4 linked regions of the Homo sapiens genome follow. The protein of the gene in region 2 purifies or fractionates together with the protein of the main gene of each other region. This does not show direct contact. Each region holds a gene or a part of one and is shown on either strand. Other genes may lie near its edges.

Region 1 (3,989 bases), on a different chromosome or scaffold from region 2:
CGAAAAACAACACAAAACTCCACAGCACTGAGTGGACCACTGAAAACCTGCCATGGGCAGGCTGGACGTACAGGCCCCAAATTTGTTAGCTTTTCATCTCCAAGGGCACGAATGCAATTGTGCTGCCGAAATGTCTCGCCTTTGAGAAACGCGTGTGTGTGTTTTTCCCCTTTCATTATTAGAATATTAGGTTTTAAATGGCACTGGCAAACAGCCACATAAAATTTGTGATTTTAATAGAATCCCTTCAATTAAGGAAACGTGCAAATACCACTATGCCAACAGCAGTCTGACTCGGCCAGACAGATAGGATATTGTCATCATCACCGCTTCAAAGATGACTTAACGCCCCTTAATTTCACATCCTTTGTTCAGGCAAGATCACAGCATGAGCGGCTGGACTTAAAACTGTAATAAGTATAACGTCTCCCATTTACTAGATACTTACACTGTAAGGAAACCATTATCACCCCCACTTTACAACTGACGAAAGAAGTACATAAAGGTTGGTGATATGATTGGCAATAGAGTTCCCAGGCGCCTAAGCTCCAGGGCGCAAGGTCTCAACTCCTGGAGTCTAAGTTTATACCTCCCATAATAATACCGTCCATTAGTTACTCTAGAGTCCTCCTGCCTTGTTTTTCTTAACGTTTTACTTCTCTGCAAGAACATATTTTAAAAAGTTGCTTCTACAATTTAAAGTACAAAAGTAATACTGTACAGGAGTAAGTCTTTGTAAAATATTTAAAGAAAATTATATTATACAATAAAACCCCGCCCCCCTGCATTCGGGGCAGCGACGCTGGGGGAACGACTTTAGAATTTGCATTGGGTGGACAGCAAATACTTCCGTAAAACAGACCATGAAGCTTTCCACTTGGAGCCCACTGTGGCCCCAATGCCTTTCCCTTTCGCTCCTGCTCCAGGCTCCGCCTCCGCCGTGTCCGGGCTGCTCGCCCCGCCCCCGCTCGCCCCGCCCCCGCTCGCCCCGCCCCCGCTCGCCCCGCCCCCGCTCGCCCCGCCCCCGCTCGCCCCGCCCCCGCTCGCCCCGCCCCCGCTCGCCCCGCCCCTGGATTTGCTCCCTCAAAGCGGAGGTGAGGCCGGACTGAGGCTCTTACAGTGGTCCCTGCTGGCCCTTGGTGACGGGTCGCGTCAGTTCCGACCCGGACCCGTACGCTGCTGCGCTGACGTGGCTCCTGGAAGCAGGGCTGGCGTAGGGCCGCCATGTTGCAGCAGGTGAGGGGCTGAGGGCGCGCTGGGAGGGTGGCGGCTCCTGGGACTGGCTCTGCAGGTTCCGTGGGACTGGAGCCCGCGTCCCCCGCGCCCGCTACTCGAACTCGAGGAGGAGCGGGGCGGCCGGGAGTGGAGGGCTGTGGGTAGTTGTCTGAGGAGGGCTGCTGGGGGTTCTGAGGCCGCTGGGGGAGGCGTGACCCGTGCGGCGCAGAGCAAGTACTTCTTGCGGCTGTGGGGACGCCCATTGTTAACCAGCGCGAGTGGGGGTCTCTCTTTCCTCAACCCTTATTGCCGGGGTGGAGTTGAGGAGGAGCGGCCTGCGGGCCTCTTAGCTTCCTGACACCCAGGGGTGCGATGCTATCTTGTAGGAATCGGCGACACCGCCAGAGCCTCGCTTTCAAATTGCTGTTTCCAAACTAATGTTGTTGGTGATTCTCTCCTTTGTGCTCTTAGAGTTAATTGTAGTCCACATGTTGGCAACCAGAGACTCGTAAGATTAATAATATTTTTAGAAAAAACTACTGTTTATGGTCACTTAGATTGTCTTAAGTGTTTTTTTCTTTCGGTTCACACAAAATTTGTTGAGGGATTACTATGACTCAGACACGGTTGTAGGCCCAGGGATAGGGTTGTGACCAGTACAGACAGGTTTCTTGCCCCGTATTTTCGGGTTAGGGAAGTGGGTTCTAGGAGATGGGGGTTGGGTGGGGAGACACGATAAATTGTATAACCAAAGATATTTTCAGATAATTGCAAAGGCAGGGTGATGAAATAACAAGTGTCCGAGGATAGGACAACTAAGATTTATGGTCAGGAAAGACTGCTTATGAGGAGATGCCTTGAGTGGAGAAAATCTAATAATGGTTAAATTCAGCTGTATTACAGGAAAGGTGTCCCGATCCAGACCCGAAAAGAGGGTCCTTGGCCGGGCGTGGTGACTCAGGCCTGTAATCCCAGCACTTTGGGAGGACGAGGTGGGTGGATCATGAGGTCAAGAGATCGAGACCATCCTGGCCAACTTGGTGAAACCCTGTCTCTACTAAAAATACAAAAATTAGTTGGGCGTGATGATGCACGCCTGTAGTCCCAGCTACTCGGGAGGCTGAGGCAGGAGAATCGCTTGAACTGGGGAGGCCGAGGTTGCAGTGAGCCGCGGGCCACTGCACTCCATCCAGCCTGGCTACAGAGGGAGACTCCGTCTCAAACAAAACAAAAAAAGTCTTGGATCAGGCAAGAAGGAATTCAGGGTGAGTCCACAGTGCAAAGTGAAAGCAAGTTTATTAAGAAAGTAAAGGAATGGCTACTCCATAGAGCAGCCTGGAGGGCTGCTGGTGGCCCATTTTTATGGGTATTTCTTAGTGATATGGTTAATAAGGGGTGGATTATTCATTCCTCCCCTTTTAGATCATAGAGAGTAACTTCCTGATGTTGCCATGGCATTTGTAAACTGGCATGGCGCTGTTGGGAGTCTAGTAGTGAGGACGACCAGTGGTCACTCTCGTGGCCATCTTGGTCTTGGTGGGTTTTGGTTGGCTCCTTTATTGCAACCTGTTTTTTCAGCAAGGTCTTTATGACCTGTATTTTGTGCCGACCTCACATCTCATCCTGTGATTTAGAATGCCCTGTCTGGGAATGCAGCCCAGTAGGTTTCAGCCTCATTTTACCCAGCTCCTATTGAAGATGGAGTTGTTCAGGTTCACATGCTTCTGACATTTGAACCTGCGCCCAGGCCGGATGAGGCTGGAGAAACACAACCATGTTGACTGTTCCCACTATTTATTTATTTATTTATTTATTTATTTATTTATTCATTCATTCATTCATTCATTCATTCATTTATGAGACGGAGTTTCACTCTTGTTGCCCAGGCTGGAGTACAATGGTGTGATCTCGGCTCACTGCAACCTCCGTCTCCCGGCTTCAAGCGATTCTTCTGCCTCACCCTCCAGAGTAGCTGGGATTACAGGCGCCCGCCACCATGCCCGGCTAATTTTTGTATTTTTAGTAGAGATGGGGTTTCACCATATTAACCAGGCTGGTCTTGAGCTCCTGACCTCAGGTTATCCACCCGCCTCGGCCTTCCAAAGTGCTAGGATTACAGGCGTGAGCCGCCAGGCCCGGCCGACTGTTCCCACTTGATAAGTTTGTGATGTGAACCTCAGTCGAGCCCTTAGTGCTGCCAGGCGGTCATTCTACATTTCCATAGCCCCTTCACCCTCTCGCCTTAGGCAACTATTAAAACTCAAATCTTCAACGTTTCTTCTCTTATCCTCTCTCAGCTGGTAACGTTGCTTCTTGTTTCACTGAAAATGGAAGCCGTCGGAAGACAATTTTCACACTAGCTGCCTATTTATTTGCATGTTTACTCAGGGTCTCATATTCTTTTATGATAATTGGACTGTCAGTGCTCCATTCTTAGGTCTTCCTGTCTACTGTGTCCTGGTTTCCATCTCCTCTTGCCTACTGGAAGGCATTGTTCTAGTAATTCTCTTTCTTGCATCATCAGTTTTTTAATCCTTTTAAACGTTTGCTCACATCAACATATAAACGTGTTTTAATTTCTCTTACCTTAAAAAATGAAAACTTGGCCGGGTGCGGTGGCTCACACCTGTAATCCCAGCACTTTGGGAGGCCGAGGCGGGTGGATCACGAGGTCAGGAGATCGAGACCATCCTGGCTAACACGGTGAAACCCCGTCTGTACTGAAAAACAACAAATTAGCCAGGGGTGGTGGTGGGCAGCTGTAGTCCCAGCTA
Region 2 (4,075 bases):
CTTCGGGGGTATTAGGGACCCGACTAAACACACTTATTCTTCTCTCTGATTGCTGGACCATTCCCCAACTATTTGGAGCTCCACAAAGTATCAGGACTTCATCAAGAGCTCAGTGAAGGGTGAGATCTCAAAGATAAATATAGAGGACTCATTCCAAATATAGAACCAGTTAAGTTTGCATGCTCCCTTCTGTTGAAGAAATATCAAGGGGTTTCCTGTCTTGGCACTACTTAGCAGCAGCTGCGGCTATGTATCCACTTGACATCTGGTGAAATTGTAGTTTTTGATGGAGGAACATTTAAAGTTGACAACTGTCATTGAAACAACTGGTATATAGTTTTCAAAGACAAGCTAGAAACCAGTAATAGACTAAGTACTTCAATTTTGTTAAAAGAAACTGGGTAAAGGGTTCAAGTTATATAAGATAGGGAAGTCTGGTTTTCCAGGTAAAGGTTCTCTCTCTTTTTCTGTTGGAGATGTCATTCATCAACATAACGAAGCCTAAATTTAAAAGACTAAGACAAAATATTTACAAATCACATAAAAGTGAGGAAACAGCAAAATTAGTAGTCATTAGGAGAAAGCCAGGGAAGACAGGACATTCATCACATCCTTTCCTCATCTGCTTTCCTCACTGAGTCTCTGAGTGCTCATTAAATGCTTTCAATACAGTGTAATTAAGTGTGTGAACATGGTTGTCATGCTCCTCCAGGAATCTTGAAACCAGGAATGCCAGGTATATAACAGCGGGTTACAAAAGAAAACACGGATTCCTAAATCAGTGTTTTACTGTCAGTGCAGTGTTAAATGTCAATGCAACACTTAAGTTGCATTGACATTCATGTGTTGATCGGATTGTACAATGTGACGTGTGAGATTTCTCGGGACCGTCGAAGCTCAGACAACTCCAGGGCTGCAATTTACTCGTCTGGCTGCCCTCGAACCAGGCTCCCTTGGCGCGTGGGGCTCTCCCGGCGCTTGGTCCCGACCCGCGCCGCAGTCAGGATACCACGGCAATCTGGGGTCGCTTTGTAAGGAGCTCCGACCTCCGGGCAGTGCAGGGATACTCGACGGCGCGCGATGTCCCGGCGGCTCCGCGAGCCTGGCGCGCTGAGAGCCCCAGCAGTCCGAGTCCTCGAGCTCGGGCGTCTTCGCGCCGCCGCCCCGCTCAGTGCGCCCAGGCACCGCGGCCGTGACGTCACGCCCGGGACTGGCCGTTGCAGCAAGACGGCCGCGTTCCGGTTCCGGTAGGTTGCCCGGGAGACGCGGGTACACAGAGAAGCGGCTCCCGTCGGAGGCCGAGTCGTCGCCACGATCGCCCCCTTGGTGGACTCGCAGGCCGAGCGGCTTCCCCGCAGAGCTCGAGGAGGGCAGACGGCGGCGGGGGCGCCATGAGTCAGAGGCAGGTGCTGCAAGGTAGGGCCGAGGCGGGCAGGTGCCCTAACTAGCTGGCGCCGAGGAGACCCGGGTGCGGTGGGCTCCACCGACTCTCTCTCCCGCAGTGTTCGAGCAATACCAGAAGGCCAGGACCCAGTTCGTGCAGATGGTGGCGGAGCTGGCGACTAGACCCCAAAACATCGAGACGCTGCAGAACGCGGGTGAGCCCGGAGCCCGAACCCCCGTCGCCCCCCGCGCACTGAGTCCCCGACGCCTCCGCCCCGCTGCCCTGCCCGTGGAGCTCTTGGGGAGCCGCAGTGTGGGGACCGGAGTTCGCAAAAGCATCCATTCTTTTCAGCGGGTCTTTGGGGGTCAGGCCGAGAGGGTGAAGCTTCCAGATGGTTGTGGGAGGTGCGCGTTGTCCCTGTTTCCATCTTCATTGCACACAGGCAAGTGTCAGGTTGAAAGTCGAGGCCCTAGGAATTGCCTGGAGTCATTTTACGTGAATGGGACTCTACCCTAATGAGACCCATTTTATCCAAGTGCCATTTTGCATGCCACCCTGCCTTTGATCACCTTCGACTTCCTCACAGCAAAGCAATTCCAGTGGTTTAGACGTGATTTCTCGTCTTGCTTTAGTGAAAGGGGAATGATATGCTTGAATCTTTTCCAAGAAATTCCAAGTAGGTAGAGACCAGACTTTGCGAAATCCTTATGGCGCGTTCCTTCTACTCCTCAGTCCGGACTCTTGCAGATGTGAGAGGGGGAGAGAGGGGGAGAGGGAGGGAGAGAGATCTTCTTATCTCATAACATAAACTGATAAGAGAAAATGGTTCTTCTTCTTCTTCTTCTTCTTCTTCTTCTTCTTCTTCTTCTTCTTCTTCTTCTTCTTCTTCTTCTTTCTTCTTCTTCTTCCTCTTCTTCTTCTTCTTTTCTTCTTTCTTCTTTCTTCTTCTTTTTTTTTGGATGATTCTACCACCATCTGAACTGTAAGGTAGCATTTTATCACTACTGTGTCATGAGAAATCTTCAGTTTATAGGATGTGATCTTTAAAACTAACACATAATTTAAACAATTAACATGTTGACAGCAAGAATACTTAAGTGTAATGATTACTCTGGGTTTCTTTGAGGGGAATTACTACTGCACCTATGTGATACTTCGTTTTGTCACTAGGATTTTTGGCATTTATTCCTTGTGTGTTTTTATTGGGGGGCATGTATTTACAATAAAGTATATTTTATAATCTTCTAAACGCATTTTAGTTTGAAATAATTGTAGATTCACAACTGTAAGGGATAATACAGAGAGATCCCGTGTACCCTTTTCTCAGTTTCCCCAATGGTAACATTTTTCAAAACTGTAGTGCAATATCACAAGGAGGACATTGACATTGATAAAAATTCGTTGATCTTATATAGGTTTCCTCCTTTTAATTGTTCGTGTGTGTGTGTGTTTTGTCCTATAGAATTTTATTCCGTGCGTATCCACCACCAGCACAGTCAAGATACAGAACACTTTCATTGTCACAAGGATCCTCTCTCTTGCCCTTTTATAGCCACACACACCTCCTGCTATCCCTAACCCTGGACAACCACTAATCTCTTCTCCATTTCTAAAATTTTGTCATTTCAGAATTGATAATCCTTTGTTCTATAGTTGTTTTATATGGGTTGATTTTCTGTATTCTGTGTGTGTGTATGCACCCGTACTCCTCCAAGTACCCAGAACAATACTGGGCACACAGTATTTCATATACACAGACTAACACAGACTAAGGTATTAGAACATGTTACATTTTAGAAGTGTATTTAAAAGTAATTTTAAAGTGTAAACTTTTAAAGTTTTTTCTCTCAGTCCCTCTCAATGACCTTTGTGAATGGACATTTACTACTTAACAAAGATTTAGTTTCTGGACAATATGAATATAGCCAAACTAAAACTTTTAAAATGGGAAAATAATTGATATTATTTTCAAATTTTAATACTGAGATGTTAAAGTATACATAACTTTTAAGATACGGAGTATCATGTTTTAGTGAGTAGTGGCAGGTTAGCTCCTCCCATAAGAGTGCAATGTAGACTTCACAATGGAACTTAATCCAAATTGACTGTATAAGTGGCTTAGATATAAGATTCTACACTTATGGTCTGGCTTAGGAAAGATGAATACGAAAGGAATATAACTTTATGTTTTGAAATTCTCTGCACTTGACTAATATCTGGGTAGCATGCTAAAATGTTTCTTTTCCTGAGGGACTTATTTTTAACAAATTTCATGTTATCGAGATTCAATTCAAGCATTCCTTTAGCAATTTTAAATACAGACATAATGAATATTCAATGTATTTATTCTTTTGATTAAAAAAGAACCTGTAAACTTTGTTATGAAAACTTTTCTTTCTTTCTTTGAGACAGAGTCTTGCTCTGTTGCCAGGCTAGAGTGCAGTGGCATGATCTCGGCTCACTACAACCTCCGCCTCCCAGGTTCAAGCGATTCTCCTGCCTCAGCCTCCTGAGTAGCTGAGACTACAGGTGTGCGCCACCATGCCCAGCTAATTTTTGTACTTTTAGTAGAGACGGGGTTCCAGCATGTTGGCCAGGATGGTCTCGATCACTTGACCTTGTGATCCACCCGCCTTGGCCTCCCAAAGCACTGGGATTGCGCCCGGCCAGTTTTCTTTCTTAATAGTCAGT
Region 3 (3,500 bases), on a different chromosome or scaffold from region 2:
TTTGAGATGGAATCTCACTCTGTTGCCCAGGCTGGAGTGCAATGGCGCAATCTCGGCTCACTGCAATCTCTGCCTCCCAGGTTCAAGTGATTCTCCTGCCTCAGCCTCCCGAGTAGCAGGGATTACAGGCACCCACCACCATACCCAGCTAATTTTTGTATTTTTAGTAGAGATGGGGTTTCACCATGTTGGTCAGGCTGGTCTTGAATTCCTGACCTCAGGTGATCCATCCACCTCGGCCTCCCAAAGTGCTGGGATTATAGGCATGAGCCACTGCACCTGGTCAGTCTGGACATTTTCTAAGGTTTCTGTGATTCAATGGTGGGACCACCTCCTTGGTTACAAATTTAGCTTTCTCTTTGCATCTTCCATAGTAAGCTGGGTTAACCAACGTTCAGCAATTCGATAACTCCTGGGGCATGGAGATCTGCATATGTAGCTGAGTGGGTGCAGCACAGACATACAGTGCGTGGCCCCAGTGCCTCCGGTTAGACTATAAACAGCTCTTGGAAGAAATCACAGGACAAGAGTGAGCCTGCTCTGCTGACTACGAAATGGTTTCCTGAGGCCTCCCTAGCTTCTGGGTTTTCTCAAATTATAAAACTGGGGGATCCTTTTGTGCATTAAAACCAGATTGCCCACACCCAGGCCCAGCTGGTCCTCCCCAGGGAACTTCTCTGTGCTGCCACAGAACCCAAGCTCTCCAGGCACATCTTACCGTATGCAGCCCGAGGGTGGCTGCCCGCAGAAGTGCCTTCCGAGGTCCCCAGTGTCTCCCCTGCTGCTCCCGTGAGCGGGATGGTGCTGTCATCATTAGCCTTGGCACCTGGTAGCTCTTTAAATACTGGGGACTCTGCTTCCTGAACCTTACTGAGGCTTTCGTCAGATACTCGTGATAAAGCACCTTCTTTTTGTAATTTGCCTAAAGAAAACAAAGTCATACTGAACATTCTGGAAGAGAGTTCTTATTATTGAAACATGAATATTAAAAAGTGAATCTATATCTTTATGCTTTAGCACTGATTTTGGAAACAAAAAAAAAAGTTATAGCTAGATAGAGAAAATGAAGTTGAGGCCAGGTGTGGTGGCTCACACCTGTAATCCCAGCACTTTGGGAGGCCGAAGCAGGTGGATCACCAGGTCAGGAGTTTGAGACCAGCCTGGATAATATGGTGAAACCCCGTCTCTACTAAAAATATAAAAATTAGCCGGGTGTGGTGGCAGGCGCCTGTAATTCCAACTACTTGGGAGGCTGAGGCAGGAGAATCTCTTAAACCCAGGAGGCAGAATTAGCAGTGAGCCAAGACTGCGCCACTGCGCTCCAGCCTGGGTGACAGAGTGAGACTCTGTCTCAAAAAAAAAAAAAGAAAGAAAAGAAAAGAAAGTCAAAAGTTCAATTAATTACCTGGAAAACTCTAGCCAGAAAATTCAGCAATTGAGGAAAAGATGGAAATTTAGGGCCCGAGTTATCATATCCAAAAACAACAACCAAAAAAGGGTCAGATCCGAATACCACAGTTCCCTCCAGCACTAATGTTCTGTAAATCTATAGCCACCCAGACTGGCCTTCTGTTTTCTTAAACTAACCTCAGAATCAGAAATTTCAATTTCTGAAAAATTGCCTTTTTCAGAAAGTCACATAAATAAAATAATAAAATATGCGATTTTTGAGACTGGCTTTTTCTACTCAGCATAATGCCTTTGAAATCCATCCACGTTGTTACATGGATCAATAATTTGTTCCTTTTAATTGCTGAGTAGTATTCAAATGTACAAAGGCACCACAGTTTATTTATTCTGTGGATAATGTGGGTTTTTGGAGATTGCATATAAAGGTGCTATAAACATTCATGTGCAGATTTCTGTGTGAATTTAAGTTTTCATTTTTCCAGGGAAATATCTAGGAGTGGTTAAGAGTATATTTATGGCAAGTGCTAGCCATATAAGAAGCTGCCAAACAGTTTCCCTGTACCATTTGACATTCCCATCAGCAACGTACGAGGTTCCAGTTCCTCTTCATTCTTCTAAATACTGACAAAATTTAGTACTGTCAGTATTTTTCATTATTTATTTATTTATTTATTTTTGAGATGGAATCTCACTCTGTCACTCAGGCTGGAGTGCAGTGGCTCTATCTCAGCTCACTGTAACCTCCGCCTCACGCGTTCAAGCGATTCTCCTGCCTCAGCCTCCCGAGTAGCTGGGACTACAGGTGCGTGCCACCACGCCCAGCTAATTTTTGTATTTTTAGCTGAGACGGGGTTTCACCATGTTGGCCAGGATGGTCTCGATTTCTTGACCTCGTGAACTGCTCGCCTCAGCCTCCCAAAGTGTTGGGATTACAGGCGTGAGCCACCGTGTCTGGCCCCATCTATCTTCTTTGGTGAAGTGTCTATTCAAATATTTTGCTCTTTTTTTTTTTTTTTTTTTGAGATAGAGTTTCACTCTTTTTGCCCAGGCTAGAGTGCGCTGGAGTGCACTAGCGTGATCTCCGCTCACTGTAACTTCCGCCTCCCGGGTTCAAGTGATTCCCCTGCCTCAGCCTCCTGAGTAGCTGGGATTAGAGGCACCCACCACCATACCTGACTAATTTTGTATATTTAGTAGAGATGGGGTTTCACCATGTTGGCCAAGCTTGTCTCGAAATCCTGACCTCATGATCCGCCCACCTCGGCCTCCCAAAGTGCTGGGATTACAGGCATGAGTCACCGTGCCTGGGCTATTTTGTTCTTTTTGTTTGTTTGTTTGTTTGTTTTGAGACAGAGTCTTACTCTGTTACCAGACTGGAGTGCTGTGGCGCGATCTCGGATCACTGCAACCTCTGACTCCATGGTTCAAGCGATTCTCCTGCCTCAGCCTCCTGAGTAGCTGGGATTACAAGCATGTGCCACCACGCCCAGCTAATTTTTGTATTTTTAGTAGAGATGGGGTTTCACCATGTTGGCCAAGATGGTCTCAATCTCCTGACCTTGTGATCCACCCACCTCAGCCTCCCAAACTGCTGGGATTATAGTCGTGTGCCACTGCGCCTGGCCTATTTTGCTCATTTTTTAATTGAGTTATTTGTTTTCTAAAATGTGTTTTTATTTTTTGAATACAAGTCCTTTGTAGTTATGGGATGTGCAAACATTTTTTCCCATTCTGTTCCCGGTGCTTCTCACAGAGCAATAGTTTGAAATTTTGATGAAGTACAATTTATCAAGTTGTCCTTTTTTTTTTTGAGATGGAGTTTTGCTCTTGTTGCCCAAGGGGAGTGCAATGGCACAATCTCGGCTCAATGCAACCTCTGCCTCCCAGGTTCAAGCAATTCTCCTGCCTCAGCCTCCCAAGTAGCTGGGATTACAGGCATGAGCCACCACACTTGGCTAATTTTGTATTTTTAATAGAAACAGGGTTTCTCCATGTTGGCCAGGCTGATCTCGAACTCCCGACCTCAGGTGATCTGCCTGCCTCAGCCTCCTAAAGTTCTGGGATTACAGGCGTGAGCCACCATGCCTGGC
Region 4 (4,057 bases), on a different chromosome or scaffold from region 2:
GCGGGGAACCTATTGTGAACTGCGCATTGGAGGGATCTAAGTTGTGTGCTCCTTATGAGAATCTAATGATAAATGTAATGCCTTTGAATCATCCTGAAACCATCATCCACCCCCCCACCACGAAACCGGTCCCTGTTGACCAAAAGGTTGGGGGCCGCTGCTCTATATAATCCCTGGGAGACTGACGACTTTGTCTCTTTCACTTAGTGCCATGAACTCCAGGGCAACTTTGTGGACGCTCCATAAACACTTGCTGGAATGAACCCATAAATATTTTATACTACCACATATACAGTAATACATTTAAGGAGCTGCTTGGGTGTGTAAAAAATTGCAGGGGACGTTTACAAATAAAGAACCTCCTGAAACAAAGCAATGAATGGAAAGTGGGATCAGCTGGTTGAAGCAATGCCCACAAGCTGCTCCAGCTTCCCAAAGCAGAGAGGTTTTCCACCTAAGCCAACATCCTTTTATTTTTAGTCACTATAGCTATAAATCTACTCCCTTACCCCGCACCTCACTCTCAGCCGACAGCCCAATGGGCTTATCCTCCTCTCGCCCTCACGATGAGCGAGTCCACGCGGTCTCAGGCTGGAAGATGCACTTGAACACCAGCCAAGCACTCACGGACGACACTGGATTCTAGGCCGCCTGGGCTTCTCCACTGTACTAGGAATGTAAAATCAAAAGTCAGAAAGAAAACTTCGGAGGTGGAATCTCCAACCCGGCAACGGGTTAGGAAGCAAAGCGCACCTACCAAAGGGCTGGTCCCTGCAGCCTCAAGGGCTGATGGGAAGTGAATCCACCGTCAACCGCCCTGATCCAAAATGGCAGGATACCGGAGCAATAGTGTTCAGGTGTGAAGATAGGGCAATTGAAGAAGGGAGAACGAAAGCATAATTGTTTTGATTCAACATGGAAGCAGTGATTATAGGAGGGCGAATAGCGAGGGACGACGCAACATCCAGCTGGCAGAAGCAGCGGGCCTGGAGAGGGTGGCTACATTGAACTAATCCAAGATGGCGCCGAGGTTGTAACCGGGAGCGCCCAAGAGGCGGGAATTACCCTGATCCAAGATGGCAGTGGCAACTGAGGCAAGCCGAAAGACGGGAGCGCCAGGAGCGTCTTTGCCCTCAGCCAAGATGGCGGCTGCCGTGGACCCTGTCCCGGCTCCGCCCCGCGGCCCTGGCCCCGCCTGCCCCTCGTCCCTTCCTCCGCCCCCTCTCCTCGCGTAGTCCGGCCCGAGCCGCTCGCGCTAGGAGAGCGGGCTTCGGGCACTTGACATGGCGGCAGTGGCGGCGACTGCAGCAGCGAAGGGGAATGGGGGCGGCGGTGGCAGGGCCGGGGCCGGGGACGCCAGCGGCACGCGGAAGAAGAAGGGCCCGGGGCCCCTGGCCACGGCGTACCTGGTCATCTACAATGTGGTGATGACAGCCGGGTGAGGCTGGGGCTCGGGGAGGCGGGGAGCCAGCGCGGCCGGGGAGGGAGCCCTGCGGCCAGCGGCGGGGCGGATAGGATCGGCGCGGCCCGCCGCAGGCAGTGCATTCCCGGCGGGGGGTGCCCGGGACCCGGTACCTGGGCGCTGAGGGCGGCCGAGCGCTGAATCGGCCCCGGTGGCTGCCCGCGAGCTCCCTCCTGCGCTGGGGGTCGAGCCAAGTTCCCAGGCACTGGGGCGCGGGGACGGCTGCCGGGCGCTGGCTCGCGAGGGCCGCGGGAGGAAAGGTGGGGCTGGCCACAGGTGCGGGGCCGGGGGCAGCGGCCGGACTACCTGCGGCGCGGAGCCCGTCCTGGGCGGCCAGATTCGGATGTTGAACGGCGCCAGCATGGGGAGTGGAGGAGCTGTGGCTGCAGAGTGACCATTCATTTGGGCGGCTGTTTTCAAAATCTGGGCTGCGCTTTAATCTGAAAGGTATTGGGAAAGCGTTCAAAGTTTTTGGCCAGCGACATGAGCAGAGCTAGGCTTTAGATGAGTTTAGACTTTTAGGATGGGTTGGGGTGGGGAAGAAACTGGGGAGTAGAAGGCAGAGTTACTGGAAAGGGGGAGAATGGACCCTCGAAACGGTTTTACCCATCTTCTGTCTCTTTCATTTCAGTGCATCCCTTATCCCGGCGGGTTTTTAGTTCAAGCTCTGCCACTAACTAGCTGTGTGACTTTGGATAAATCATCTTATTTCTCTAGCCTCCGTTTTTTCATTTGTAAAACTAAAGGGTTGGTCTGGGTGATGAAGGTTCCTTCAGCTCTGCAATTCTTTATCTTGTCATTTTGGTGAGGAGGATCACAGCATCAGACAGTTATATATTTTTAAGTTATCTTCATTTGTAATTTTTTAAGAAGTCCTAACATTTTATTATGAAAAATTTCAAACATACAGAAGAGTTGAAAGAATTGTATAGTGAACATCCATTTTTATTTAAAGTAGGTGATACATTGTTAGGGTTAAAAATGAAAAACATGAGGGAATACAGTGAAAATCTTTCCTCCCACCTTTCCCTTCTACCCAGCTCCCCTCCCTCGAGGCAGTTAATTTTGTGTATCCTTAAGATGCTGATGCAAGCAAATATGTTTATACATCCCCCTATCCCTTTTTAAAATAAGACAAATGCCAATATATTAATATTTTTACAGTTCAGCACCTTGCTTTTTTTTCACGAAGAAGAAAATATATCGTGGGAGGATCATATATGTATTGCTAGTATTAGAAATGGTAGGTGTTGGAACCTAGGCTCAGAGAAGTTGTGACTTGCATGAGATCATAGAACTTGTTAGTAGAAGTTCCAGATCTAGAAATCATTTCTCTTGACTCACAGGTCAATGAAGAACTAGTACAGATACAAGCTTTATATCACATCAGTGGTCACATAGATTGATTTTTAAAAAAACATCCAGGAATCTCACTGTGTGTATTAATATTTATATATAAAATTCTTGTTGTCTTAGCAAGAGCCGGTGAGGGCATTGGACTGGAGAGGGATTTTGAGGTACATTGGTAAGAAGAAAGAAGTCTATTCCTGAGCAATGAACATAGAGAATGGGGTGGAGGGTAAGGAGTGGTATCTTAAACCAGGAAGATAAATTGGGATTGTGAGAGCAAAGTAAGCTTTTTTTTTAAGGCTGTTAATGGTTGTACCAGTTACACCATTAAATAATTTCTTCTTTTACAAACTCTTACTTGATGTCCTTATGTGATAGTTTTTGGAAATAGCATAGACCACACACACCCCATTGCCTAGTTGATACTATACATTTATCTAAATCCTTCCAGGAGACATACCTTAATAAAAAGGTCCATTTGTTTTATTATGGAACTTAACAAAACATTGTGTTTATTTTTGAGAAGGACAGTGGAACAAAAATATAACATTCACAGCTGTATGCTTAAGTGCTTTCCTGTTTCGTGGTTTGTATTGATCTGGCTTTCATTTCTGCATTGATTTTAGGAAATTTGGCTAAAAAACTTTTTTTTTTTAGCAAGAGCCCTTTATTCGTAATTTTAAAAGGATAGATTTTAAGGTATGGGTAATTGTTCCAGTGAGACAATTATAACAATAGTTTAAAGCATCTTCTTTCCACCCTGTAATTATTAAAAACCCTTTAACTGCACAGGCTGTTTAAAATTTTCCTTTAACTGTTTTTTTCTCGTCTTAGATTTTCTTGGCACCTGATTTAGTGGCACAAGGACCATTTTAGCTTATTCCTTTCCTTTTGGCCTTGATCTCAATAGCAAAGTTGCCAAAAAAATGAGCTCCAGATGGGTGAGGTGCCACTATGCTTTCACTGAGCCCTCTTGGTAAGGTGCTGTCGGTGTTGCAACATTTCAGTGCATTACAGCTTGGCATTTGAGAGCTATCGTCCATAAATCCAGGTTACTCATGCTTGAGGTCACCTTTAGCAATATCTTTTATTGCCACAGCTGTGTGTTAACCTAAATGCTACTTTTTTTATTTTTATTTTTTCCTGATTGCTGTTTTCTCTTTTACTAGGTGGCTGGTTATAGCGGTTGGTCTGGTCCGAGCATACCTGGCTAAGGGTAGCTACCATAGCCTTTATTATTCAATT

The links. The genes of interacting proteins can lie anywhere in the genome.
Region 1: the proteins of SPAG6 (region 2) and TVP23C purify together in Homo sapiens (affinity purification with mass spectrometry, with the first as the bait; one large-scale study listed by BioGRID). This does not show direct contact.
Region 3: the proteins of SPAG6 (region 2) and SLC20A2 purify together in Homo sapiens (affinity purification with mass spectrometry; one large-scale study listed by BioGRID and IntAct). This does not show direct contact.
Region 4: the proteins of SPAG6 (region 2) and HACD2 purify together in Homo sapiens (affinity purification with mass spectrometry; one large-scale study listed by BioGRID and IntAct). This does not show direct contact.

Annotation. Positions count from the first base shown.
Region 1 is NC_000017.11:15,560,684-15,564,672, reverse strand, and holds the start of TVP23C (Golgi apparatus membrane protein TVP23 homolog C), read left to right. Parts: upstream 1-1,189; 5' UTR 1,190-1,224; coding exon 1,225-1,236; intron 1,237-3,989. Other genes in the region: TVP23C-CDRT4 (uncharacterized protein LOC100533496), read left to right, coding at 1,225-1,236.
Region 2 is NC_000010.11:22,344,221-22,348,295, forward strand, and holds the start of SPAG6 (sperm-associated antigen 6), read left to right. Parts: upstream 1-1,275; 5' UTR 1,276-1,391; coding exon 1,392-1,416; exon of another isoform or gene 1,417-1,502; coding exon 1,503-1,598; intron 1,599-3,796; exon of another isoform or gene 3,797-3,913; intron 3,914-4,075. UniProt on the Homo sapiens protein: Important for structural integrity of the central apparatus in the sperm tail and for flagellar motility.
Region 3 is NC_000008.11:42,438,732-42,442,231, forward strand, and holds part of SLC20A2 (sodium-dependent phosphate transporter 2), read right to left. Parts: intron 923-3,500; coding exon 719-922; intron 1-718. UniProt on the Homo sapiens protein: Sodium-phosphate symporter which preferentially transports the monovalent form of phosphate with a stoichiometry of two sodium ions per phosphate ion.
Region 4 is NC_000003.12:123,582,254-123,586,310, reverse strand, and holds the start of HACD2 (very-long-chain (3R)-3-hydroxyacyl-CoA dehydratase 2), read left to right. Parts: upstream 1-1,257; 5' UTR 1,258-1,283; coding exon 1,284-1,438; intron 1,439-1,693; exon of another isoform or gene 1,694-1,909; intron 1,910-3,981; coding exon 3,982-4,057. UniProt on the Homo sapiens protein: Catalyzes the third of the very long-chain fatty acids (VLCFA) elongation four-step cycle (condensation, reduction, dehydration, and reduction).